Regions from separate parts of the Homo sapiens genome. Here regions 1, 3, 4, 5 and 6 are each reported to be linked to region 2. The links are microRNA targets in miRTarBase. Many come from high-throughput screens and were not tested one by one. Region 2 holds a microRNA gene; each other region holds the end of a gene's coding sequence.
What was found. The annotated mature microRNA hsa-miR-6890-3p reads CCACUGCCUAUGCCCCACAG and lies in region 2 at 1,749-1,768, shown strand. An mRNA with a match to its seed (bases 2 to 7 or 8) in the 3' UTR can be bound and repressed. Matches are read on the target gene's strand: a 7mer-m8 pairs with bases 2 to 8, a 7mer-A1 pairs with bases 2 to 7 and ends in A, and an 8mer does both.

Region 1 (4,109 bases), not on the chromosome of region 2:
AGATAATTCATACTGGAGAGAAACCCTACAAATGTGAAGAATGTGGCAAAGCCTTTAACCGGTCCCCAAAACTTACTGCACATAAGGTAATTCATTCTGGAGAGAAACCCTACAAATGTGAAGAATGTGGCAAAGCTTTTAACCAATTCTCAAACCTTACTAAACATAAGATAACTCATATTGGAGATACATCTTACAAATACCTAGAATGTGATAAAGCCTTTAGCCAGTCTTCAACTCTTACTAAACATAAGGTAATTCATACTGGAGAGAAACCCTACAACTGTGAAGAATACGGCAAAGCTTTCAACCAGTCCTCAAACCTTATTGAACAAAGTAATTCATACTGGAGAGAAACCCTACAAATGTGAAGATTGTGGCAAAGCCTCTAACCCGTCCTGAATTCTTACTAAACATAAGAACATTCATACTGAAGAGGAACCCTATGAGTGTGAAGAATATGGCAAAGCCTTCAACAAGTCCTCAATTCTTACCAGACATAAGATAATTCTGGCTGGGTGCGGTGGCTCACACCTGTAATCCCAGCACTTTGGGAGGCTGAGACGGGTGAATTACATGAGGTTGGGAGTTCGAGACCAGCCTGACCAACATGGTGAAATCCTGTCTCTACTAAAAATACAAAATTAGCCATGCGTAGTGGTGCATGCCTGTAATCCCAGCTACTCGGGAGGCTGAGGCAGGAGAATTGCTTGAACCCGGGAGGCAGAGGTTGAAGTGAGCTGAGATCGCGCCATTGCACTCCAGCCTGGGCAACAAGAGTGGCACTCCATCTCAGAAAAAAAAAAAAAAGATAATTCATACTGAAAAGAAACTCTACAAACTTGAAAGATGTGACAGTGCTTTTGACAACACCTAAAACTTTTAAACATAAAAAATCATACTGGTGAGAAATCCTAGAAATGTAAAGAATGTGACAAGGCCTTTAAATGGTTGTCACACTTCATTATAGGTAAGATAGTTCATACTGAAGAAAACTTCTACAAGTGTGAACAGTGTGGCAAAACTTTTAATGAATGCTCACACCTTATTGCACAGGAGAGCATTTATACTTGAAAAAAATTGTACAAATATAAAGACCATGAAAAAGCCATTAATATCTATTCACATCTTACCACTGGAGAGTTCATACTTAATAAAAGGAATATAAGTGCAATTACTGTCAAAAGATCTTTCAGAAAATATAAACCTTTAAAGCGAAGAAGGTATTTATTTTGAAGATGAACACTACAAATGTGAAGAGGGTTGTAGTACCTTTATTTGTATCACAGATTTTATTGTACACATTTTGTACTAGAAGAAAACTCTGAAGTAGTTGCTCAAACTTTGTTCAACATCAGGGAATTTATATTGAAGAAAAACTTTGCAAATTTAATAAATTTTAAAAAACACTTTTTCAAAAAGTACAGCTTAGAAGACACCAGAGTTCATACTAAAATATATTTTTGCAGATGCAGTAAAAATGAAAATATTTAATCCAAAATTAAGTCTATGTAAATATCAGAGAATTTACTGTAGAAATATATAAGGCACTGAGACTTCAGATATTATACTAAATCAGAGTGCTGAGTATAGAAAATAAAACTGAAGTTGGGGCCAGGTGCAGTGGCTCACACCTGTAATCCAGCACTTTGGGAGGCCGAGAAGGGTGGATCACCTGAGGTCAGGAGTTTGAGACCAGCCTGACTAACATGGAGAAAACACGGCTCTACTAAAAATACAAAATTAGCCAGCTGTGGTGGTGTATGCCTGTAATCACAGCTACTCGAGAGGCTGAGGCAGGAGAATTGCTTGAACCCGGGAGGTGGAGAGTGCAGTGAACTGAAATTGCGCCATTGCACTCCAGCCTGGGCAACAAGAGTGAAACTCCATTTCAAAAAAAAAAAAAAAAAAACAACTAAAGTTGGTAGAAAAATTATTTGTATATAACTTTAAAAGGAGTAGAAGGGCTTTTTGCAGAGTTATTACGTTTGAAGTATACTTTATTTCTTGAAAAAATTACAGATTTTTTGTAAATAATGATGTAATTCAACTCTCAAAATATTTCCTACTGTTTCTTTATTCCAGTTGTATTCACATGTGAAAGCATGTGATCAGTTATTGCTGCATTAAAAACATGAGTCTTTTTTATTAGGTGGCCATTATTTATGATCTTTTCTATGAAAGAGTAAGGACATTAAAATGTAAGATGCATGATGAAAAATTAAGTGAAGAGGCTCTTTATGGTTAATTTATATTGAATAATGCATTAGGTAGGTGTTCAGAGTAATATTTTGCGTTGTGAGAACATTTTTAATTTTATTTAAAATTAAATGAAAATAAATTAGTATATTATTGTACTAATTGTACTTTTGTATAATAAAATCCAGTGTATTTTAAAAATGTTAGGTTATGTGTGGTTAATATTTTAATCCAATATTTTTAACATGTTAAATACTATTGTGCATTCAATGAAGTGTTATTATGCCACGAACTTTAACCTGTTCCACTTTACTTAAAGGTATAGATGAAAGATAATAACAATAAGGGGCCAGGCGTAGTGGTTCACACCTGTAATCCTAGCACTTCGGGAGGCTGAGGTGGATGAATCACGAGGTCAGGAGTTCAAGACCAGCCTGGCCAACGTGGTGAAACCCCGTCTCTACTAAAAATACAAAAATTAGCCAGTTGTGGTGGCTGGCGCCTGCAATCCCAGCTACTTGGGAGGCTGAGGCAGAAGAATCGCTTAAAACCAGAAGGTGGAGGTTGCAGTGAGCCAAGATCGCGGCACTGCACCTGGGTGAAAGAGTGAAACTCTGTTTCAAAAAAAAAAAAAAAGATGGTAACAATATACTATTTGGCAACATAGTGGATTAACATCTTGAGTAATCTCTTTTGTCAGTGGGTTTAAACTGCAAATTAGTTAAAGAATATTGCTTCTGTAGGTTAAATTTTTCTTTTTCAATTATTTAAATTTATTTTTAAAATTTTTGTGGGTACATAATATGAGTATATATTTATGCCATATATGGCATATTTTGATACAGGAGTACCATATATAATAATCACATCAGGGCAAATGGGGTATCCATCACTTCTAGCAATAATTTATCCTTTGTATTACAAACAATTCAGTTCTACACTTTTAGTTATTTTAAAATGTACAATTGTTATCGGTTACAGGGTTATTTTTATGGTCATAATAAAAAATATGCAAGTATAAATAAAATCCATACATTTCTGAGTCCTGAATAAATATTATTAAAATTTTCTTACATATATTTTTGAACATGTGGCCTGTCTGCCTACAAACACATACAAACTTTTAGTTTTGATTTACATAGAGTTAAATATATATTAGTCTAAAGATAAATCTTAGTTGTAAGAAAACTATGGAATATGAGTTTGTCCCTACTTTCAGAAAAAAAAAGAGCAATATAGGAACAAAACAAGTCATTTTAACAAGGTGACTACTAGAAAACTAAAAACCTCAAAAATGCAAAAGCAAACATATACTCTCTGCTTTGTATTGAATTTATTACTGTATAATCTATGCCTTATACTTCGGAATCTCCCCATGCAAATTCTGTTTATACTTGCCTGGTACTCATGATAGACCCCTACTTTTTGGTATTTTGTATATTTATTTTATAGTTTATGAAATATTCATTATGTGAGCTGGAATGTGAGTATAAGAATAATTTTTATGAAATGTGCATACAAAATAATTTTATATGTAATTCCACAATTAGTATATTAAGTTACATTTTATTTAGCTAGAACACTCCATTTTGTTTTCAATTGGAGAACCCTATATAAGCTTACTATTCTTTAGTTATTGTTCTTTTTACTTTTTATAATTGACAAAGTAAATTTATTTATGGAGTCAAATTGTTCAGGTAAATACAAGGGAAGCTTAGTAAGTCATGAAGATGTTTTTACATGTAAATGTGGAAAGCATATATAGCAGTTCTTGGTGTGTAACATGCTCCAGAAAAAGCCATAAACATTTCTGCTAAAGTTAGTTTGTAACTTCAAGTCAGAGATAGAAAATATTAGTAGTGAAGAAATACAGCTGATGTTTTATGTGGAGAGGACACTTCCAGGCTGCA
Region 2 (4,000 bases):
AGGTGTGTGGGGATGTGGCCATGTGAGCTTGTGCCATCAAACACCTGCCTGAGTGCCTGGGCTGCGTCCATACTGCCCCATCTCACCCATCACCATGGCCTTCCTGGGAGGGAACATCTGTTTCTTTAAGGTCATCTGAGCTCAGACTTTATTTCTCTTTTCCCATCCCCCTTATTTTAGGTACGTACCCGGTTCCCGCCAGAACCCAATGGAATCCTGCATATTGGACATGCCAAAGCCATCAATTTCAACTTTGGCTATGCCAAGGTAAGCATGTGTCTAGGGACCTGGCAAGCAAGATGACCACTTGCTGTTCCCATGAGTGGATACCATATCCCTGCCTTGCTGTCTGCTCCCAATAATGTACCCAGGTGGGCAGAGGCCATGGAAAGGAACCACATGTGTGACAGATACCTAGGAATCTATTGAGCTTATTGGAATAAATAGCTCCCTCCCTCTGAGGAGTCAGTGAGTTCAAATTTGGGGGAGTTGCCAGTGCAGTCCCTAGGCTTAGAAAGATGCTAGGTTAGATACAGGAAGGTGAGAGAAGCTCTTGAAGACATTTTTAATTCTGACATGAGTCCGGGTTGGGTGGCTCACGCCTGTAATCTCAACACTTCGGGAGGCTAAAGTGGGTGGATCACTTGAGGTCAGGAGTTCGAAACCAATCTGGCCAACATGGTGAAACCCCATCTCTACTAAAAATACAAAAGTTAGCTGGCCATGGTGGCACACGCTTGTAGTTTCAGCTACTGGGAAGCTGAGGCAGGAGAAACCCAGGAGGTGGAGGCTGCAGTGAGCCAAGATGGTGCAAGATAATCAAGACTCCATCTCAAAAAAAAAGAAAATTCTGACATGAGAGTGCTCTGTGAATATCCTAGTTTGATAAACAGGATTGTGGGGCTGATGGATGATGTGGGAGTTCACAGATGGTGCAACTTTCCTAGGCCAACAATGGCATCTGTTTTCTGCGTTTTGATGACACCAACCCTGAGAAGGAGGAAGCAAAGTTCTTCACGGCCATCTGTGACATGGTAGCCTGGCTAGGTATGGACTAGGCAAAGCCTAGAAGGGCTGGTGGTTAGTGGGCCTCTCCTTGGGCCATGGCCTGCCCACTGGGTGTTTGTGGCTGGCTGCTCATACTTTGTTTCATTTTGCCCCAGGCTACACACCTTACAAAGTCACATATGCGTCTGACTATTTTGACCAGCTATATGCGTGGGCTGTGGAGCTCATCCGCAGGTAAGGCCAGGGCCATGACGTAGAGCCAGGCAGACTGACTAGGTCACAGCCATGCTGGGCACTCACACCGCTTCCCCACAGGGGTCTGGCTTATGTGTGCCACCAGCGAGGAGAGGAGCTCAAAGGCCATAATACTCTGCCTTCACCCTGGAGAGACCGTCCCATGGAGGAGTCACTGCTGCTCTTTGAGGTGGGGTCCTAGAGGAGCATCTGGGTTTGGGTGGGCCAAGGTGCTGAGAATGAGATGCTCCTGTGCTTAGAGACAGCCTGAGTCCTTGTTCCCCTCAGGCAATGCGCAAGGGCAAGTTTTCAGAGGGCGAGGCCACACTACGGATGAAGCTGGTGATGGAGGATGGCAAGATGGACCCTGTAGCCTATCGAGTCAAGTATACACCACACCACCGCACAGGGGACAAATGGTGGGTGTAGAATGGGGTGGGGTGGTGGGGCTGCCGAGCAGGGCGATGGGCCATGGGGTAGGGCAGAGTAGGGCTGGATGGTAGGGCCCACTGCCTATGCCCCACAGGTGCATCTATCCCACCTACGACTACACACACTGCCTCTGTGACTCCATCGAGCACATCACTCACTCACTCTGCACCAAGGAATTCCAGGCCCGGTGAGGGAGCTGGGTCCATGGGGTGGTAGGGCCAGTGGAATTCCAGCAGCCCTTCCTGTGGTCTCTGCCTGGTTCCAGAGCTGGCCAGTGCTAACCCTACTCTCCCACCCCAGACGCTCTTCCTACTTCTGGCTTTGCAATGCACTGGACGTCTATTGCCCTGTGCAGTGGGAGTATGGCCGCCTCAACCTGCACTATGCTGTTGTCTCTAAGAGGAAGATCCTCCAGCTTGTAGCAACTGGTGCTGTGCGGTAGGTGCGGCTGTTTGGCTTATGAAAGGTTAATGGCATATGCTCCCAAAGGCCTTCTCACCACCTTCTTATCCACAGGGACTGGGATGACCCACGGCTCTTTACACTCACGGCCCTGCGACGGCGGGGCTTCCCACCTGAGGCCATCAACAACTTCTGTGCCCGGGTATAGCCCAGCAGGTTGGGTAGATACATTGGGGGTTGAGTGTGGCAGTTTGTGATTGTAGCTGTGACTGATGCTGAACTTTCCTGCCAGGTGGGAGTGACTGTGGCACAAACCACAATGGAGCCACATCTTCTAGAAGCCTGTGTGCGTGATGTGCTGAATGACACAGCCCCACGAGCCATGGCTGTGCTGGAGTCACTACGGGTCATCATCACCAACTTTCCTGCTGCCAAGGTGGGCCTGCCTCAACATGTGTGTCACATGTGTGTGTGTAGCTGGGGGTACACTTGGCTCTGGGCATGGGGGTCCTAATGCTGAGTATGACTCATACCTGTCTCCTGTCTCCTGCTATAGTCCTTGGACATCCAGGTGCCCAACTTCCCAGCTGATGAGACCAAAGGCTTCCATCAGGTTCCCTTTGCACCCATTGTCTTCATTGAGAGGACTGACTTCAAGGAGGTAAATTGTGGGGGTGGAGGGTCCCGTTTGCTGCTGAGTCTGGTACTGGGAACCTTTCATCTCCTCATCTCTGTCAGTCCATCTACTTCCTGCTTCAGATGAACCAATCTTTGCCAGACACGGGGGTAGGGAAGCTTCCCCACTTGTTTGACCCTTGCAGCCTCATGTGTCTACCCCACTTCCTATCTCTAGGAGCCAGAGCCAGGATTTAAGCGCCTGGCTTGGGGCCAGCCTGTGGGCCTGAGGCATACAGGCTACGTCATTGAGCTGCAGCATGTTGTCAAGGTGAGAGCCAGCTGCAGCCTTCCTACTGCAGTGCCTGCTGGGGCCAAGATGTGAGTATAGCCTGCAGTCCTGGTTGTGGTTCCCGGGTCTAATTGCTGCTCCCCTCCCCCCACTTCCAGGGCCCCAGTGGTTGTGTAGAGAGTCTGGAGGTGACCTGCAGACGGGCAGATGCTGGAGAGAAGCCAAAGGCCTTTATTCACTGGGTGTCACAGCCTTTGATGTGTGAGGTTCGCCTCTATGAGCGACTGTGAGTGAACAGAGCTGGGGTGGGGGCAGGTACAAGATGCACATTGCCTGCTATGGCTGCCCAGCTGGGGGTATGACCTTCACTTTGGCTGCAGATTCCAGCACAAGAACCCTGAAGATCCTACTGAGGTGCCTGGTGGATTTTTAAGTGACCTGAACCTGGTAGGTTCATGAGGTTTGGGGTGAGGGAGGTAGGCCTCCCTGGTTGGATGGTTGCCTGAGTTCCCTGCCTGCAGGCATCACTACACGTGGTGGATGCAGCATTAGTGGACTGCTCTGTGGCCCTGGCAAAACCCTTCGACAAGTTCCAGTTTGAGCGTCTTGGATATTTCTCCGTGGATCCAGACAGCCATCAGGGAAAGGTGCTTGACTTTACTCACCTGCCCTCATCTGCAGCAGTGACAGTGGCTGCCGTTCATTGTGCCAAGTGCTCTGCATACATTCCCTTAGTTAATCCTCACCACCTGAGGGAGTTGGTATTCATATTCTACTAGTGAGGAAACTGGCACTGAGGATAACTCCAGGCACAAAATTTTGTATGAAGGCTGCCTTTTTTTTTGAGACAGTCTTGCACTGTCGCCCGGGGCTGGAGTGCAATGGCACCATCTCGGCTCACTGCAACCTCTGCCTCCCAGGTTCAAGTGATTCTCCTGCCTCAGCCTCCCGAGTAGCTGGGATTACAGGCGCCTGCCACCACACCCGGCTAATTTTTTGTATTTTTAGTAGAGATGG
Region 3 (4,101 bases), not on the chromosome of region 2:
TGTCTTGATGTCCCCAGGGCCAGGAAGAGGGTGAGGTCAGTTCCTGCAAATGCAGGGTCAGATACCAATTTTATATAGAATGTTGATGTTTTGTTCATCATTCATTTTTAAATTCATTTTGATTTTTAAAAATATGATAATAGGCCACACACGGTGGCTCATGCCTGTAATCCCAGCACTTTGGGAGGCCAAGGGAGCACAGATCACTTGAGGTCAGGAGTTCAGGGCCAGCTTGGCCAACATGGCAAAACCTCGTCTCTACAAAAAATACAAAAATTAGCTGGGCGTGGTGGCCTGTAGTCCCAGCTACTCAGGAGGCTGAGTCAGGAGAATCGCTTGAATCCAGGAGTCAGAGGTGCAATGAGCCGAGGTCGCACCATTGCACTCTAGTCTGGCAGCAGAGCAAGGCCTTGACAAAAAAAAAAAAAAAAGATAACAAAATATTATTTGTCTTCCAAAAGAAAAGAAAACAAGAAAAAAAAGAGAGAGAAAACATTATTTGTCATGATTGCTGAGCTTTTCGGCATCCCTTAATTTTATTTTATTTTTTTTCTGAGACATGGTCTCACTCTCTTGCCCAGGCTAGAGTGCAGTGGTGCGATCATAGCTAACTACAGCCTTGATCTCCTGGGCTCAAGTGATCCTCCCACCTTGGCCCCCTGAGTAGCTAGGACTGCAGGTGTGCACCACCATGCCCAGCTAATTAAAAAAAAATTTTTTTTTTTTTTTTTGGAGAGACAGGGTCTCAAACTCCTGGGCTCAAGTGATCCTTCTACCTTGGCCTTTCAAAGTGCTGGGATTACAAGCATTGACCAGCCAACTGTCAAACTTTCTTAGCAACCAAACTCTTTTTCAAATGAATAAACACTGCAAAAACTCCCAATATAAGCAATAATTTGTTGTAGCATTTTATTAGTAAAAAGGCATTTCCAATGTTTAAATTAGGATTTATCTACAAAACAATCAATTCTCACTGAGGCTGTGGAGATGGACACAGGCATTTAAAATCAGAATTTGTAGGTGAAATCTTAATTGGTCTCAACATCTACTTTATTTCTGCATTGGGTAAGCCCTTGATTCACAGAGAAGCAGTGGCAAAGAGTAGCTAATTTTTTCAGGGCTCCCTTCACAATTTAATTGGGCTCTTCAGTTAAATCAGTTAAATGAAAATGGCAGAAGAATCCTAAATTATTAGGTTGATGCAAAATTAATTGTGGTTTTTGCCATTACTTTTTTTTTTTTTTTTTTTTGGAGACAGAGTCTCTGTCACTCATGCTGGAGTGCAGTGGTGCGATCTCGGCTCACTGCAACCTCCGCCTCCCGGGTTCAAGCCATTCTCCTGCCTCAGCCTCCCAAGTAGCTGGAATTACAGGTGTACGTCACCACACCAGGCTAATTTTTGTATTTTTGAGTAGAGACAGAGTTTCACCATGTTGACCAGGCTGCTCTTGAACACCTGGCCTCAAGTGATCCACCCGCCTCAGCCTCCCAAAGTGCTGGGATTACAGGCGTGAGCCACCGAGGCTTTTGCCATTATTATTATTATTATGAGATGGAGTCTTGCTCTGTCACCCAGGCTGGAGTGCAGTGGCACAATCTCAGCTCACTGCAACCTCCGCCTCCCGGGTTCAAGTGATTCTCCTGACTCAGCCTCCTGAGTAACTGAGATTACAGGCACTCACCACCATGCCTGGCTGATTTTTGTATTTTTAGTAGAGAAGGGTTTCACCATGTTGTCCAGGCTGGTCTCAAACTCCTGACCTCAGGTGATCCACCTGCCTCGGCCTTCCAAAGAGCTGGGACCACAGGTGTGAGCCACTGTGCCCAGCCAGTTTTTGCCATTATTTTTAATATTTTTAATGGCGAAAACCACAGTTACTTTTTGCACCAACCTTAGTAATCTTCAACACCTTAGAAGCTGCTGCCCAATACATCCAAGCATACATCTTAAAATTACAGTTTAAAATATTTTTAAATGAAATTTGACACTAACATTTGCAGAACTACCAAAACCTGCCTTGGAAAACTGGTTTGGAAAATGGATGAATAAGACAGCAGTAGGGTCTTGTTCAGCTCAAAAGCCTCTGTTTCTAAGGTTGCTTTTATTGAGACTCTATCAGGAATTCCACGGAGGGGAGAAGGGATAGCCACCTTGAAGATTTAGACTATCCTAGCATTAAAGTAAAAGCCTGAGAAGACTGAGAAGGGCTTTTAGAAGGCTGTGGGCAAAGAAGAAAGATCCACTTAAGTGGAATGAAAACAGTTTGACTGTTGAACTTGCACAAGGCAGACAGTTCAAAAGCAAAGCAGGGAGAGATCAGCAGCTCTTTCTACTTCCAAGAGCCTCCAGTTTTTAAGATTAAAAACCCACATCTTTATCCCAAAAGTTTGGGAGCCAAGGAATAGAGAGGGATGAACTATAACATGTTGATTGTTTTACTGCCAGCGTGAGTCCTGAAGTCAGCTCATTAACCAAAGACGCACATGCCAAATGCACTATAGATATAAATTCAACCAATCGCCAACTTTAAAAGTCAGAACATTTTTGCATAAAAGTCTGGATTTCTGGCTTTGCTTATTACAACTGGAAGCACTGACAGCAGTGGGCTTGTTTGGCCATGGTGATTCTGGGCTACAGTCAGGCTGCTCATACCCACCCTAGACACAATCTCTGCCTTCCACATGTCCAGTCTCTGTCTCTCCCTGCTGCTCACCCAGGTGCATGGAAGTGTCTAGATTAGTCACTAGCTCCTGTGAGCATTTGAGTGTGGTGCCTGTGGAAGAGATGGTTGTGCTCTGCAGACTGAAATTGGAGTGAGGTCTAACAGGAATGGGACAGAAGGCTCACTCTCAGAGCTCTTGCACCTTGGACTTGTGACCTGAATCAAATTATAACTACTTCCGCAAGGCTCAGTTTCCTCATCTGTAAAATAGATACAGAAACTCCTGCCCTCCCTAAAGTATGAGTTGTGATGAGGATCAGATGACAGCACCTACAGCTTTATAAACTGTGAGGTTCTGTGGTCCACATCAGTGATTTGCTGTATCTCACATTCATCCGTTCCCCCTTCATCTGGTACCAGAACTCCAGTTTGCATCTCAGGAGTAATCTCTTCTATTCTCAGTCCCAGTGGTGGACATTGGATCAGTCTAGCCGATTAGAGCTCTGCATTCTCCCAGATATAATAATTGGTTTAGGGCTAGGCGTATGGGCCAATTGGGACCAGTAGAGTTGAGGCTAGGACTGTTGGGAAAGAGAAGCTCTCTTTTCTATTGAAATTGGAGACAGCAGCATATTGGCCACCATGTTGCTAACCTGGGGGTGGCAAGTCTGAGAATGAAAATGAAAAAGAGGAAAGAATAATGGAAAGATGAGAAGAGACAAGGTCTGAAGCCATAATCTGAAGCCATGGGTCCAGATATACACCAGCAAACGTATTCTTTTTGCTTTAACTAGATTAAATGGGGCTAACTCACTGGAGCCCCATACCCCCACAGGGTTTTTTTATTTTTATTTTTTTACACTATCAGGCACACTTGTGAGCATTTGTTTGATTTGGTTTCATTTCCCTGGGCACTTTCTGACTCCAAGTCCTGGGGAGCTCCTGCAGCTGCAACTAGCTCCTCTCTCTGCCTGGATTTGACCATCCACATTGCCTTCTTGAAGTTCTTAAGAGGGTCCTGCGGTGAGGCTTTTGCTGAAAGGCACTGGAAATTCTCTCGGATCAGATAACCATGCCTGGTGGGGGCAATGAAGCCACTGGTGGTTGGGATGATTCTGTTTACCACAGCATGGACAAACTGGACTGTCAGCAGGGTGCCTGTAAGGGTGAAGAGAAGGACACAAATGAGAAAAATGGGGTGTAGAGGTCCAATCCTACACATTCCAGAGTTGGCTGCATGGAATAAAATTCCTGCTATGCCCTCTACTAATTTTGGCATGACATTTATTATGCCAAAGAGTCCCTCTTCCTTTATCTGCACAATGGGAATGATAACAGAACCTACACCTGCTCAGGGCGATTTTTAAGATTGAAAGGCATCATGCAGGTCATGTGCTTAGTGTAGGTTTTTGGCCCAGAGTGAGCTCAGTAAATATTA
Region 4 (4,109 bases), not on the chromosome of region 2:
GTTTGTTTAAAAGCCATCCTTTATATAGTAAAACTGTTGTCAAACAATGTTGTAATTTAAACACCCCCTCCCTGCAAAACAGAGATGTTACACTGTGCAAGAGGTGTACATTCCGGAATTATTTCCTGCTGGATCTCAAAACTATTTTAAGCAAAAGCATGTCACTCACCAAGCATTCACGAACTCAGAGCCAACTGGTGTCCTCACTCCCAGGTTTTGCAAAGGTCCCTTCTCTTCCTTGCCAAGGAAAAAATGTTCTCGTTCTGTATCGCGGAATTAATAAAATCGCCAAGACTTTGCTATAACTTTCCGTGCTTCCTACTCTCGAATAGTGAACCTGTCTCAATATCGGAAAAGACAGAAGCGACTGCCCTCTTGCGGGCACTATTGTCACTGCATCTATTTTGGTATCAAAAGCACTAACTGCACTTGAGGACCAGGTGTTTCACCTTCTTGCCAGGTGTGGGTGAGAGTCACGCACGTAACTGAGTAGGTATTGATCATCTCATCTGAATTTTGTTCTACATCTCAACAGGTGTTGCACACACGAAACACTGCAACTATTTATAAAAGTGTGCTTATAGGAGCTTTCGTCTTGAGACGGAGTCCCACTCTATTGCCCAGGCTGGAGTGCAGTGGCGCAATCTCGGCTCACTGCAACCTCCGCCTCCCGGGTTCAAGTGATTCTCCTGCCTCCGCCCCCCAAGTAGCTGGGATTACAGGCACCTGCCATCACGCCCGGCTAAATTTTATATTTTTAACAGAGATGGGATTTCACTATGTTGGCCAAGCTGGCCTCAAACTCCTGACCTCAGGTCATCCACCTGCCTCGGCCTCCCATAGTGCTGGGATTACAGGAGTGAGCCACTGCACCCGGCCTAGGAGTTTTATTTATTTATTTAAAACAGTGTTTAGATACCAACTTGGCTTGCGTTTTCAAACATATTTATGTTATCTGTTTTTGAAATTAACATACATTTGGTTGTAGTAAAATACATGATATAGTTTGGATATTTGTCCCTGGCCAAAGCTCATGTTGAATTGTAATCCCCAGTGTTGGAGGTGGGGCCTGGTAGGAGGTGACTGGATCACGGGGGCGGTTTCTTAGGAATGATTTAGCACCATCCGCTTGGTGCTGTCCTCATGACAGTGGCGGTTCTCAAGGAATCTGGTCGTTCAGAGGAGTGTGGCGCCTCCCCCTCTCTCGCTCCTGCTTTCACCATGTGACGCGCCTACTCCCTCTTCGCCTTCTGCCTTGATTGTAAGTTTCCTGAGGCCTCCCCAGAAGCCAGGCAGATACCAACATCATCCTTCCTGTACAGCCTGCGGAACTATGAGTCAATTAAAACTCTTTTCTTTATAAATTACCCAGTTTCAGGTATTTCTTTATAGCAATGTGAGAAAGGACTAACACAACATAAAATTTACCATTTTAGCTATTTTTAAATGTATGGTTCAGTGGAATGATTAGGTAGATTCACACTGTTGTGTGGCCATCACCATGACTGATCTCCAGAACTCTTTCTTCATCCCAAATAAACTGTGTCCACTAAACACTAACTCTCCATTCTCCCTCACCCCTCAGTGCTTGGCAAACATCACTTTACCGTCTGTCTCTATGACTCTGACTGTTCTAGATACCTCCTATAAGTAAGATCATATAATACTTGTCCTTTTGTGACTAGCTGATTTCACTCAGCATAACGTCCTCAAGGTTCCCCCATGTTGTAGCATGTGTGAGGGTCTCCCTCCTTTTGAAGGCTACATAATATTCCACTGCATGTATATACCACATTTTGTTTACCCATTCACCCGTCCATGGAATTTGGGTTGTTTTCATCTTTGACTATTTTGAAAAATGCTGCTATGAACATAGGTGTGCAAATACCTCTTTCAGACTCTGCTTTTAGTTCTTCTGGGTATACGGTATATCTGGAAGTGGGATTGGTGGGTCAGATACTAATGCTATTTCCATTTTTTTTTTTTTTTTTTTGAGAAACTGCCATACTGCTTTCCCCAGTGGCTGCACCATTTAACATTCCCACCAACAGTGCACAACGGTTCCAATTTCTCCACATTCTCTCCAGACAAAGAAGATGTTTTTAAAGACCAATGCTGACATATAACAAATATAGCAATTTTAAGTCATTTCATTTTATTGAATTATGTAAAACATCTTTAAATAACAGTAAAAAAATTAAGAAACCATTGCACAAATTCAGTCACAATGATGGCATACTACAGCCCACAGAATTTAAATCTCATGTGAGTTGAGTTAAATTAATTTGCTGGTACAAAGAGAATATAATGCTCTTCCTGCTGGGAAATTATTTCCACATATTCACATTGTATAGGGATTCTGAACTTGTGATATTTTCAATAAAAGGTCCATATCTTAAGAATTTGAATTTAGGGCTTATCAATGATCTTGAAATACAGGGGTGGAGACAGGTTGGCAGCAAAACAAACTGCTCAACTAAGCAATGAAGAAAAATCTGCCTCTGTATCCAGATAGAAATGAATTTCAAGTGTTAAAGAGGCATCTCTCACGCTGCTCGAGGGTGGAAAAATCTTGTCAACTGGCAAAAGGGAAATACTCACTAATCACTGGGCATTATGAAAAAGTACAAATTCCTTACAGGTACACATTTGCCTTATCTGATTTTATGTTTCTTCTCACTCTGCCAATTATTTTACAAATATAAAAAGAGTAGTTTTAGCAGAAAAAAGGGTTATGGAGTGAAATACTAATAAGCAATAATGGAATGTAACCAGGGCAATTTCATACCTGCCAAGGAGCATAATTAAAAGAGAATACAAAAATCTAAAGGTGAACCTTGCTCCTATACCAAAGTAAAATCGATTTATTCCTTATTTTCTAGTCTAATCTAGTATTTCATTTCCTACTCAGTTTTCCTTTTTATAAGAGTAAAACATTTTTTGGTTGAATTTAGAACTAATTAAAAGCATTATGGTAGCTTTAAATTTTGTAGAAAATTCATTTGTATAAAAACATTTGTCTTTAATGTTTAAAACCATATATTATTAGAAATATCATGGGTGTATATAATGCAACATAAAAATGTCCAGCTTTGACTGTGGAAGCACTAGCTGGTCTAGACTATTTTGAAATATCCAAAAATCACTACTCACTCATTGTGGGCCACCTTGCCAATATCAAGTGAATGAATCCATAGGTTTGAGGTGTTACCCTCTCATTCAAGGTTTAAAACTTTTATAAAATACCTGCAATGTTTCTTTGAAATATCCAGCTACAAACAGGAGAACAATTCTAGACACTACCTCAAACTTGTGTCATCCATTGTCATGAACTTAATTGTTTCAAAGAAAATGCTAAAAATTTCTAACTTGCTTTAGGAATTAGGGGCAGTGAACATGCAACCTGACTCTCTCTCACTTATCCATCGTGTTGAGGAGCATTTCACACCTTAAATGCTAAAAACTTCTAACTTGCTTTAGGAATTGGGGGCAGTGAACACGCAACCCGAATCCCTCTCACTTATCCATCGTGTTGAGGAGCATTTCACAGGTCACGCCTTCATCCACTTCCTCTTTGACTCTGGCTGTGGTTTCTCTGCAGGCGACAGGAAACATCTCTCCTGGGAACTGTTCTCCCTTCGTGGTGGAAGCCTCCTCAGCAGCAGCTTCTTGAGAAAAAGTCCAGGATGAGCAAATTTATCAGAAAGCTAAGGAATTGGAATTTATAAACTGTGCAAATATATTTTGGAAACCATCACTTAAATTTGAACACGGCAGCAAGCATGTTAGAAAACAATCTAATTGATAAGATGGTACTATTCTGATCTCAACTACTGCCTTCAGTCAGGGCTTCTTAGCCTCAGCGCTACAGACGTTTGGGGCCAGAGAGCTGTCTGCTGGGGGCAGGGCGCTGTTCTGGGCACTGTAGGATGTTAGCAGCGACCCTGGCCTCTACCACTAGATGCCAGTAGCACCCTCCTCTCCAGCTGCAAAAACCATAAAAATGTCTCCAGACATTGCCAGTGTCCCCTGAAGGTGACGGGGGGGGGGTGGGGGGGGGACACAGTCATTCCCAGCTGGCATCAGCTGCTATAGGTGAATGTGGATCT
Region 5 (4,109 bases), not on the chromosome of region 2:
TTTAAAATGGAACTCAGTGTGACGCTCTGCTGTAAGAAAAAGAGTATGGACTTCTTATTATAAATGTTGCATTTTCTCTTGGAATCCAAATATCTATACAATACTAAGTACTTTTCTTAATATGTTTATTAGGCTACAGGTGTCACAGGTCAATTCATTTTTTTTTTTTTTTTTTTTTTTTTTTTTTTTTTTTTTTTTTTTTGAGACGGAGTCTCGCTCTGTCGCCCAGGCCGGACTGCGGACTGCAGTGGCGCAATCTCGGCTCACTGCAAGCTCCGCTTCCCGGGTTCACGCCATTCTCCTGCCTCAGCCTCCCAAGTAGCTGGGACTACAGGCGCCCGCCACCGCGCCCGGCTAATTTTTTGTATTTTTAGTAGAGACGGGGTTTCACCTTGTTAGCCAGGATGGTCTCGATCTCCTGACCTCATGATCCACCCGCCTCGGCCTCCCAAAGTGCTGGGATTACAGGCGTGAGCCACCGCGCCCGGCCAGGTCAATTCATTTTTAAGGACAACAGCTGCTGTTTGTTTCATGCTTAACACCAACACTCAAAATGACTTATAGTATTTTACAAATTTTACAAATGTTTATAATTACTATGAAGATTTACAAAACCCTAAAACCTATAGCAAATATCGAACACTCATTACAAACATTCTAAGTATTTAACTAATTTTAGATAGAAAAAACTCTAAAATATGTATGGAATTGCCACTTACTAAACAGGCAGACTTTCTGTTCCCTTTTTTCTAGAGCTCTTATTAGTGTTTATCCTTATTTTTAATCCCTGTTTCTCCAAGTTGATAGCTTTGCTCTGAAATATTCAGTAATTCACACAAAAGAAAAAATTAGCAATATAGAATTATAGACGTGGAATCACGAAGTAAAATCTTTTTTGTTAACAAATCTGGATCTCTTGCCCAATGGGTGACGTTGTGCTGAAGGAGGAGGTGAATGGGCATTGTTTTATGTCAAAACTAAGTCTATCCACAGGTCCTCTCCTGTAACAAAGATAGAAGAGGTCTAAAGAAGCAGGAGACCGGCCCTCGATGGAGGTGCCTCTTAGAAATTAGATGAGTGGTTATGATTTTTGCTCAATGTTGCTAGAGAGCATGGTTTCTCTCCTTCTACAAGAAAGAGAAAAATGGGGAAAATTTGGTGAGATGAAGGGTGAACTCTTAATTCCTCCAAGTCTTGTAGGTATCTAAGTATGTGCCCTCCCTGAGTTCAGAGAAGATCCATCCATTTTTAATTTTTAAAGCCTGGGCATTTCTCACAACAGATTCTGAATTTGAATTAATTCTAACCTCAGACAGAACAAAAGACTGGGGATGTATTTTTGTGGTATGTTTTAGATTCTCAAGAAGGACAGAACAGCATAGATTGATTTATTTGTATTTTGATAGGGCAGTGAAGATTTATTTTATAGTATGTGAGGGGTGTGTGTGTGTGTGTGTTGGGAGAGAGAGGGAGAAACTGAGAAAATGGTGGGACATGAAACATATCCTTGGAAACTGCTTTCTCTCTCCCTTCGTCTTTCTCTCTCCCTCCCTCTTCTTTCCCATTTCTCTTCAGTACTGCCATAAACAGGCGGGAAGCAAGATTATATACATATATATGTACATATGTGTGTGTATAATTATATGTAAAATTTAGTGGTCTCACCAAATTGTGGACTTGGGCCCTCAAAGTTTTCTTATCAATTTTCTTTCAAATTAGCATTGAATAAACTTTCTTTGGGTTTGATTTATTTTCCTATAATAAATTTTAGCATTTTATGTAAAATGTTTCTTTTCTGGTTAATAGTCACTTTATTTTAATCAAACGCTCTTCAGTATATGGACTTCTTATGACTTGTGTCATAGAAAAGCTATTTTCCTCTGCCTATTGCTTCAGTTACCAAATATTTAGTTTACAAGTTACACCATTGTTATCATCATTAACTACTTGTCTGTGTTATTGCAATTAAAATGATAACTATTTATGTCTTATCTGCCTTTTTAATTTTAAAATTCAGATACAGGAGAAAATCCTGCTTTCTTTCTTGTGTGTTAATGGAAGGCAATTTTCAATAAAGTGTACTTAATTGACTTATTTGTTCAGACATAAACTTTGTAAGGCCCCTGTGATCTGTGTTTGTGGTTCTATTTCTCCAAATTGAGCAGGCTTTTACTGAATATAGTTTTTAAAAATACATTTCACTACATAGTCTTTTCAGTTATTATTTAATGGCAGTAATGACCTCCAGTGGATTCTTGGGTAAATAGCAAGTGGAATTTTCAGAGGATGTCAATTTTCAGTATATTTGCATTTCTTAGATCTTTTGAAGCATGGTGACTTATCTGAATAAACTTAAATTTTTCTTAAAATATTTATGTATTTGTTCATTTTACAATGAAATTGCAAGTGATTATGAGCACTTTAACTTAAATGTATAACCTATAAGCTAACTTTGAAAACTGAAATAAACACTGTTTAAGATTAATATCTAAATAAATGTTCATAATGGTTCTCCTGTGTAATCCACTTGCTTTCAATTTTTATTTAGGTGAAAACATCTTACAAAATTTCATATTTTAGAAAGGTAATTGCTAAATATTTAATAGAAGAAGGAAAGACTTTGATAAATAAACATTCTTAAAAATACAATTGTTTTTTATAACATTTAAGAGAGAGGTAAAAATGCTCTGAATATCTCAGTAGTTAAGTGAACTCATGAAACAATTTTCTGTCTCTTAATATAAAAGAGAGAAGAAAATTTGATATTTGAGAGCAAATCACTTTAATATTTTTTTCACAAATAAAACACGGTTGTTATAGTATATTTTAGATTTCAGCGAAGATTATTTAGAAACTTAAAATTTGGAGCTTTAATAGATTTTCAGTGCTGCAAAATCTTCATTTTTGACTTGTGAGATAAATTATCTATAAACAATACTTTCATATTAAAGTATGATACAAGGATTAACATGTTTTTTATTTCAGTTATTTGTTTCTGCAAATGAACTTGATGTATCCATGTACCTACTGATAATCTGCTTTCAAATCTTTCCTAAACAGATATCCGTCTGTAGAGAAAAAAGAAATGTGTGAGAATATAATTTTTTTTACCACAAGAGGGAAGCAAAAATCTTTTACAGTAGTTAGAATCCTAACTATAACTTCATCTGATTTGACATTCTTTCTGAGATTTGATATCTTTCTGAGAAGTTACCTTAGTTTTTATTTCCACAGTGAGTGAAAATTAAAGACTGTGTTATAAAGCAAAAATAGTGTGAATGTACTTTAATGAATATTTTACGAAGGGCACAAGCCTCAGAATGACATTTTTCCTTTCATGGGTTACAGCACTCACAACACACCTGCTACTTAACACTCATGGCTTAAACAACACTAATAAAATAATCCTTAAAGAGTACAGAAAGTTCACATGAGAATGCCAAAGTATCTTGTATTCTGCATATCTTACATTGTGATGGAAAAGAAAAATTCAGAAATATTAAAACATATTTAGTTTTATATTTACCATGATTATAAGTCTCCAATTTTTCTTCAATATTCTAATAATCTTGTCTTCCAAAAGTAAAATAATAATTTTCACAGAAAAGCAGCCAAGTACTGAAAATAACAGCTACAGTTGTTTTTTGATAAACATAATGAGAAACCATTAAGCAATGCATTTATTTAAAAAATTAGTTAATTTTATGTAAAGTTTATCCAGTCAAATGAGTATGTAGAATAATTTATTATAACACCTTCATAGTCATTCCTGTATTACAGAAATCTCTTTTAAGTAATGCAAAGAAGTTGGATGATTTATTTTTTTACTTTTTTACTTTCCAAATATAAATTCTTCAAAAGACAGTAGATAGTCTCACCCCATCAGGAGTCCAGCGTGTGCCTGGGCAGGCGGTAATGCTCAGGTTTGGAACGGAGCTTCTTTTCCTGAGGGTTGGCATACTTCCACTTGGAGGGTGACATTTTAAGCTTTTTCCTCTTTCTATCTGTGCACCATACTTTCTCGCAGTATTCTTCCACTCTCTGGAAGTTGCTATAACCGATCAGCTGCAAGAATTCCTTGTACCATGGTTTTGCTCCCTGCGAGATGC
Region 6 (4,109 bases), not on the chromosome of region 2:
TTTAGTAGAGATGGGGTTTCACCATGTTGGCCAGGCCAGTCTCGAACTCCTGACCTCAAGTGATCCACCCACCTCGGCCTCCCAAAGTGTTGGGATTACAGGTGTGAGCCACTGCACCTGGTCATTACTGCTAGTTTTAAAAACAGTGATATATCTCACCACCACACAGTATCTTATATCCTGACCTGGTAATACAAGAAATGTAGAATATTTAGAGAACTAGTAAAGATATATTATCAAAACATAGGCAGTATATTTAAAAATTTTAGAACCCATTTGATGACCAAATTAGTGGTATTAATTTTGTTTCAGGGTTAATGTAGCACTTTGATATTCCCCTAGTCTTGTGACATTGTTACTCTGGTTCTATAGACCCACTAGTTAGATCACTAAAATCACTTTTAGATATGAGCTGCCACAGAGTAATGTAGTTTAATATAAACAACAATGTAATTGTGATGTCAATAAGTTCTTTACTTGTGGCTTAATAATTAAAAAATAACAATATACTTTGAATTATATTTATCACGAGTAAGACTATAAAAATGCATAAAAGTATGTTTATGTGTTTTTTTTCCTTCTACAGTGAGAAAGTCAACAAAGGAATTGGCATTGAAAATATCCATTATTTAAATGATGGGCTGTGGCATATGAAGACATATAAATGAGCCTCAGAAGGAATGCACTTGGGCTAAATATGGATATTGTGCTGTATCTGTGTTTGTGTCTGTGTGTGACAGCATGAAGATAATGCCTGTGGTTATGCTGAATAAATTCACCAGATGCTAAAATTCTGTTAGCTTCAGAAATTATTTTAAGTTTTCTTAAACTCAAGTTAAAATTGGGTAGCAAACTTGGACATTAAAAGGTATCTGGTAAGTAAGCAAACTCATACAACTAATGTCCTTTCTTAGGCTAATGATATAAGAGTGAAGAGCAGGACTTGGTCAATGGATTGCCATTTTATGGTAGACCTCTAGAGAAACTGTCTAGTTAAATGGGGCTAGAAACTAGACTAGGAATTTTATTCTATTACTCCAGGGGACCCAGCAGTGCTCATTCTCGTGTGTGTGTGTGTGTGTGTGTGTGTATGTGTGTGTGTGTGTGTGTGTGTGTTTTGTTGATTGTTTTTTTAAAAAAAACTTCAATGGAAAATTCTAAACATATTAAGAAGTCTGGAGAATAGTATAATGGACCTCTCCATATCCATCACCCAGTTTCAGTTTATGGTCAGTCTTATTTCATCTATACCTCAATTATTTCTCCCCACCCCCCAATTATTTTGAAGCAAATCCCAGACATCCTATCATTTCATCCATAACTACTTTATTCTTTTTTTTTTTTTTTTGAAACAGGGTCTTGCTCTGTTGCCCAGGCTGGAGTGCAGTGGTACGATCTTGGCTCACTGTAACCTCCACCTCCCGGGTTCAAGCGATTCTTGTGCCTCAGCCTCCTGAGTAGCTGGGATTACAGGCACGTGCCACCATGCCCGGCTAATTTTGTATTTTTGGTAGAGATGGGGTTTCGCTATGTTGGCCAGACTGGTCTTGAACTCTTGGCCTCAAGTGATCCGTCCCCCTCTGCCTCCCAAAGTGCTGGGATTACAGGCATGAGCCACCGTGCCCAGCTAATTTTTATATATTTTATAGTTGGCCAGGCTGGTCTTGAACTCCTGGCCTCAAGTGATCAGCCTCCCAAAGTGCTGGGATTATAGGCATGAGTCACCATGCCTGGCGTCATAACTACTTTAGTGTGTATCTTTAAAAATTAGAAAAACCCCACAATACCATTATCACACCTAAAAAGTTGAACTGTTTCTTAATATGATCAACTGTCTAGACTGTTAATTCTCTTTAACTGTTGGTTTGCTTGAAATAGGTACCACACAAGGTTCATACATTGCATTTGGTTGTTATTTATTGAAGTCTGTTTAATTTATAAGTTACCTTTTCTTTTCCCCCTTAAATTATTTAAGAAATCTAGTTGTTTTGTCTTTAAAGTTTCCACACATATTCTGGATTTTGTTGATTGTATCACTGTGAAGTCATTAACTTGTTTTTATGCCTCCTGTATATCCTGTAAACAAATAAGATTGATCAGATTCAGGTTCAGTTTTTTTAGTGCCTTCTTTTGAGTAAAGTCATACCAAACAGATGCCCAGAACATCTGGATTTGGGTCCCCACTAGACTCCTTAAATAATGTATATCTTCTATAAGTGGAATATGAGGGACATGGACCTGCTTTAGTAAGAACAGTAATCTGTTTGGGGAGTTAAAAGAGCAGTTGTGGATTTATTTATTGATAAAGACCATTTTTCTTCCTAATAACCTTGCTGTTATTCTAGTGTCTTAGCCATCTTCATTTGGTTGTTTACCAATATATGACATGTGATTTTATTTTTCAGATGGATACAGACATATACAAGATTGTGGTGACCTGTGTTACAGTTAGAAGTTGGTGAGAAAGGTGAGGGTGGATAGCAAAAAGAGAGAGATCATTTGGCTGGCTGTTCCAGCTGGGTCTCCCAGGATGTAACATAGGTGGACATAGATCCAGGGTCTGACCCTCAGCTTGAGAAACCATTTCCCACTGATGAAACTTGAGAGACTTGGAGATTCCCCAGTTAGAATATAAATGTATTAATTCATAGTGATAGGTCTGCCTATGGTAAACAATTAGGAAACAGGAAGTTACTTGGTAAACACAGGTATGAGCAAAGGAAGATTGATAAATTGGGGTAATATTTCAGTTGTGCTGAGGTAAGACTTGGAGAATTTTTCCTGCTTCATCATTAATTAGAATGCTTATCTCTGCCAAAATCTCATCTCTTTCCTAGCCCATAGAGGTGCCCTGATATTTTATTTCCTATATCCTTTTCAAGTTCCATGTAGTTTTCCTTATGTTATGACAGTTTTATTCTGCAGCTTACCATATTATTTATTCCTGGTCCACGAAAGTATAAATAGTCTCATCAGGAACTCATTTGTAAGTCATCTCCCAGGGGGGTTTCTTCAACAGATAGTTTAATTTTTTGCTGACTTACTGGCTTCAAATTCAGATGTCTCCCTATTTGGGGGAGGAGGCACCCTATTTGAGGCCTGTAGCTCCTTATGTTCTTAAAAAGAATATACAAGTCATTTATGTCAGAATCAAACTTTGAACCTTTATTTTTGTTGCTAAGAGAATGTTTTTTGACCAAGACTGCCTATGGAGTATTAGCAATGAAAAACAAAGCACACATATACATACATTAGAGAAGTAAAAACTTTTAATAGCTTGGTTTTTGAAATAATTCATCTTTGTGTCTAACCACTGTTACAGTGGGTGTAAGGAACACTTTTTAAATATTCAACATCAACATCTGTGCTTGTTTTTCTACTGTGCTGAGGTACACTGTGTTGCCTTGGTGATATGGACTAAATATGTATGTTCTCTGCTTCCCCTGGGTCTGAGGCCTCTGCTCATCACTGTTAATCAGGGATGTCACTCTACATGTGTGATCCTTGTCATTTTCTAAACATTAGGTCATACATGAAAGGCAATTCAAAGAGATTAAACTAGCAGATGTGTCAGCATCTTTAGATACTGTGCTTAATGGAAACTTAGTTTACCTATATTCGTGAGAATAGGAATACAGGGATAGAGAGCCTGCTTCTCTCAGGCAGTGTGTCTTTAGTTCATTTTTAGTTTCAAAATTAAGTTTGTGTCAAACCAACCTACAATCTAGTAACTTGTGTATTGGACTCACTTTTACTCAGACAAGGTCAGTTCAGCTCAATAGGTATTTATTGAGTATCTACTAGGTTCTAAGTGACGTGGCATGAAGATGAATAATACAGAAGTAGCCCTTGCTCTTAAGGAGCTTCCAATCTAGTGAGTAAAGAAAATTTACATTTTAAATAATCTGGGTAATGGTGACAGCCCAATACTAATATGTAAAGCCAGTAGGAATGTACTAATCCTTTTCCAATTTTAGTCATCAAAAATTGTAAATTACAAATGAACTAAATGTAGTAATATTCCATAGATTGTATCCAATGTGAGGGTAAAAAAAAAATCCCAGATGTCTTGGAGTTGCCGTGATTCAGCATCCCAACTCAGATGATTG

Region 1: miRTarBase lists ZNF430 as a target of hsa-miR-6890-3p. Seed matches in the 3' UTR shown: 7mer-A1 at 1,832-1,838.
Region 3: miRTarBase lists NWD1 as a target of hsa-miR-6890-3p. Seed matches in the 3' UTR shown: 7mer-A1 at 1,604-1,610 and 7mer-A1 at 1,302-1,308.
Region 4: the mRNA of CTCFL is a reported target of hsa-miR-6890-3p. The part of its 3' UTR that is shown has no 7-base or 8-base seed match.
Region 5: the mRNA of SEMA3E is a reported target of hsa-miR-6890-3p. Seed matches in the 3' UTR shown: 7mer-A1 at 264-270.
Region 6: the mRNA of MCTS1 is a reported target of hsa-miR-6890-3p. Seed matches in the 3' UTR shown: 7mer-m8 at 3,662-3,668.

What each region holds. Positions count from the first base shown.
Region 1 is chr19:21,057,651-21,061,759 of GRCh38, forward strand. ZNF430 (zinc finger protein 430) reads left to right here. Exons shown (of 5, transcript NM_025189.4): 5 at 1-2,400. The coding sequence ends at 371. Among named protein-coding and RNA genes, the nearest start is that of ZNF714, 22 kb to the right of the region's middle.
Region 2 is chr3:49,097,622-49,101,621 of GRCh38, reverse strand. It overlaps MIR6890 (microRNA 6890), which reads left to right and starts at 1,708; the gene lies at 1,708-1,768. It overlaps QARS1 (glutaminyl-tRNA synthetase 1), which reads left to right. Exons shown (of 24, transcript NM_005051.3): 9 at 1-2; 10 at 181-267; 11 at 948-1,047; 12 at 1,164-1,242; 13 at 1,324-1,432; 14 at 1,531-1,661; 15 at 1,769-1,861; 16 at 1,975-2,112; 17 at 2,191-2,278; 18 at 2,369-2,512; 19 at 2,633-2,737; 20 at 2,930-3,022; 21 at 3,142-3,269; 22 at 3,364-3,430; 1 more. RefSeq lists an enhancer at 768-1,268.
Region 3 is chr19:16,814,748-16,818,848 of GRCh38, reverse strand. It overlaps NWD1 (NACHT and WD repeat domain containing 1), which reads right to left. Exons shown (of 19, transcript NM_001007525.5): 19 at 896-3,821. The coding sequence ends at 3,810. All of the region lies in intron 2 of LOC124904648 (a long non-coding RNA gene), which reads left to right. Among named protein-coding and RNA genes, the nearest start is that of SIN3B, 13 kb to the left of the region's middle. RefSeq lists a silencer at 1,173-1,369.
Region 4 is chr20:57,495,034-57,499,142 of GRCh38, forward strand. CTCFL (CCCTC-binding factor like) reads right to left here. Exons shown (of 11, transcript NM_001386993.1): 11 at 2,133-3,668. The coding sequence ends at 3,517. Among named protein-coding and RNA genes, the nearest start is that of CTCFL, 28 kb to the right of the region's middle. RefSeq lists an enhancer at 3,828-3,877.
Region 5 is chr7:83,363,704-83,367,812 of GRCh38, forward strand. SEMA3E (semaphorin 3E) reads right to left here. Exons shown (of 17, transcript NM_012431.3): 17 at 1-4,109. The coding sequence ends at 3,883. Among named protein-coding and RNA genes, the nearest start is that of PCLO, 200 kb to the left of the region's middle.
Region 6 is chrX:120,611,597-120,615,705 of GRCh38, forward strand. It overlaps MCTS1 (MCTS1 re-initiation and release factor), which reads left to right. Exons shown (of 6, transcript NM_014060.3): 6 at 587-4,109. The coding sequence ends at 668. Among named protein-coding and RNA genes, the nearest start is that of MCTS1, 9.6 kb to the left of the region's middle.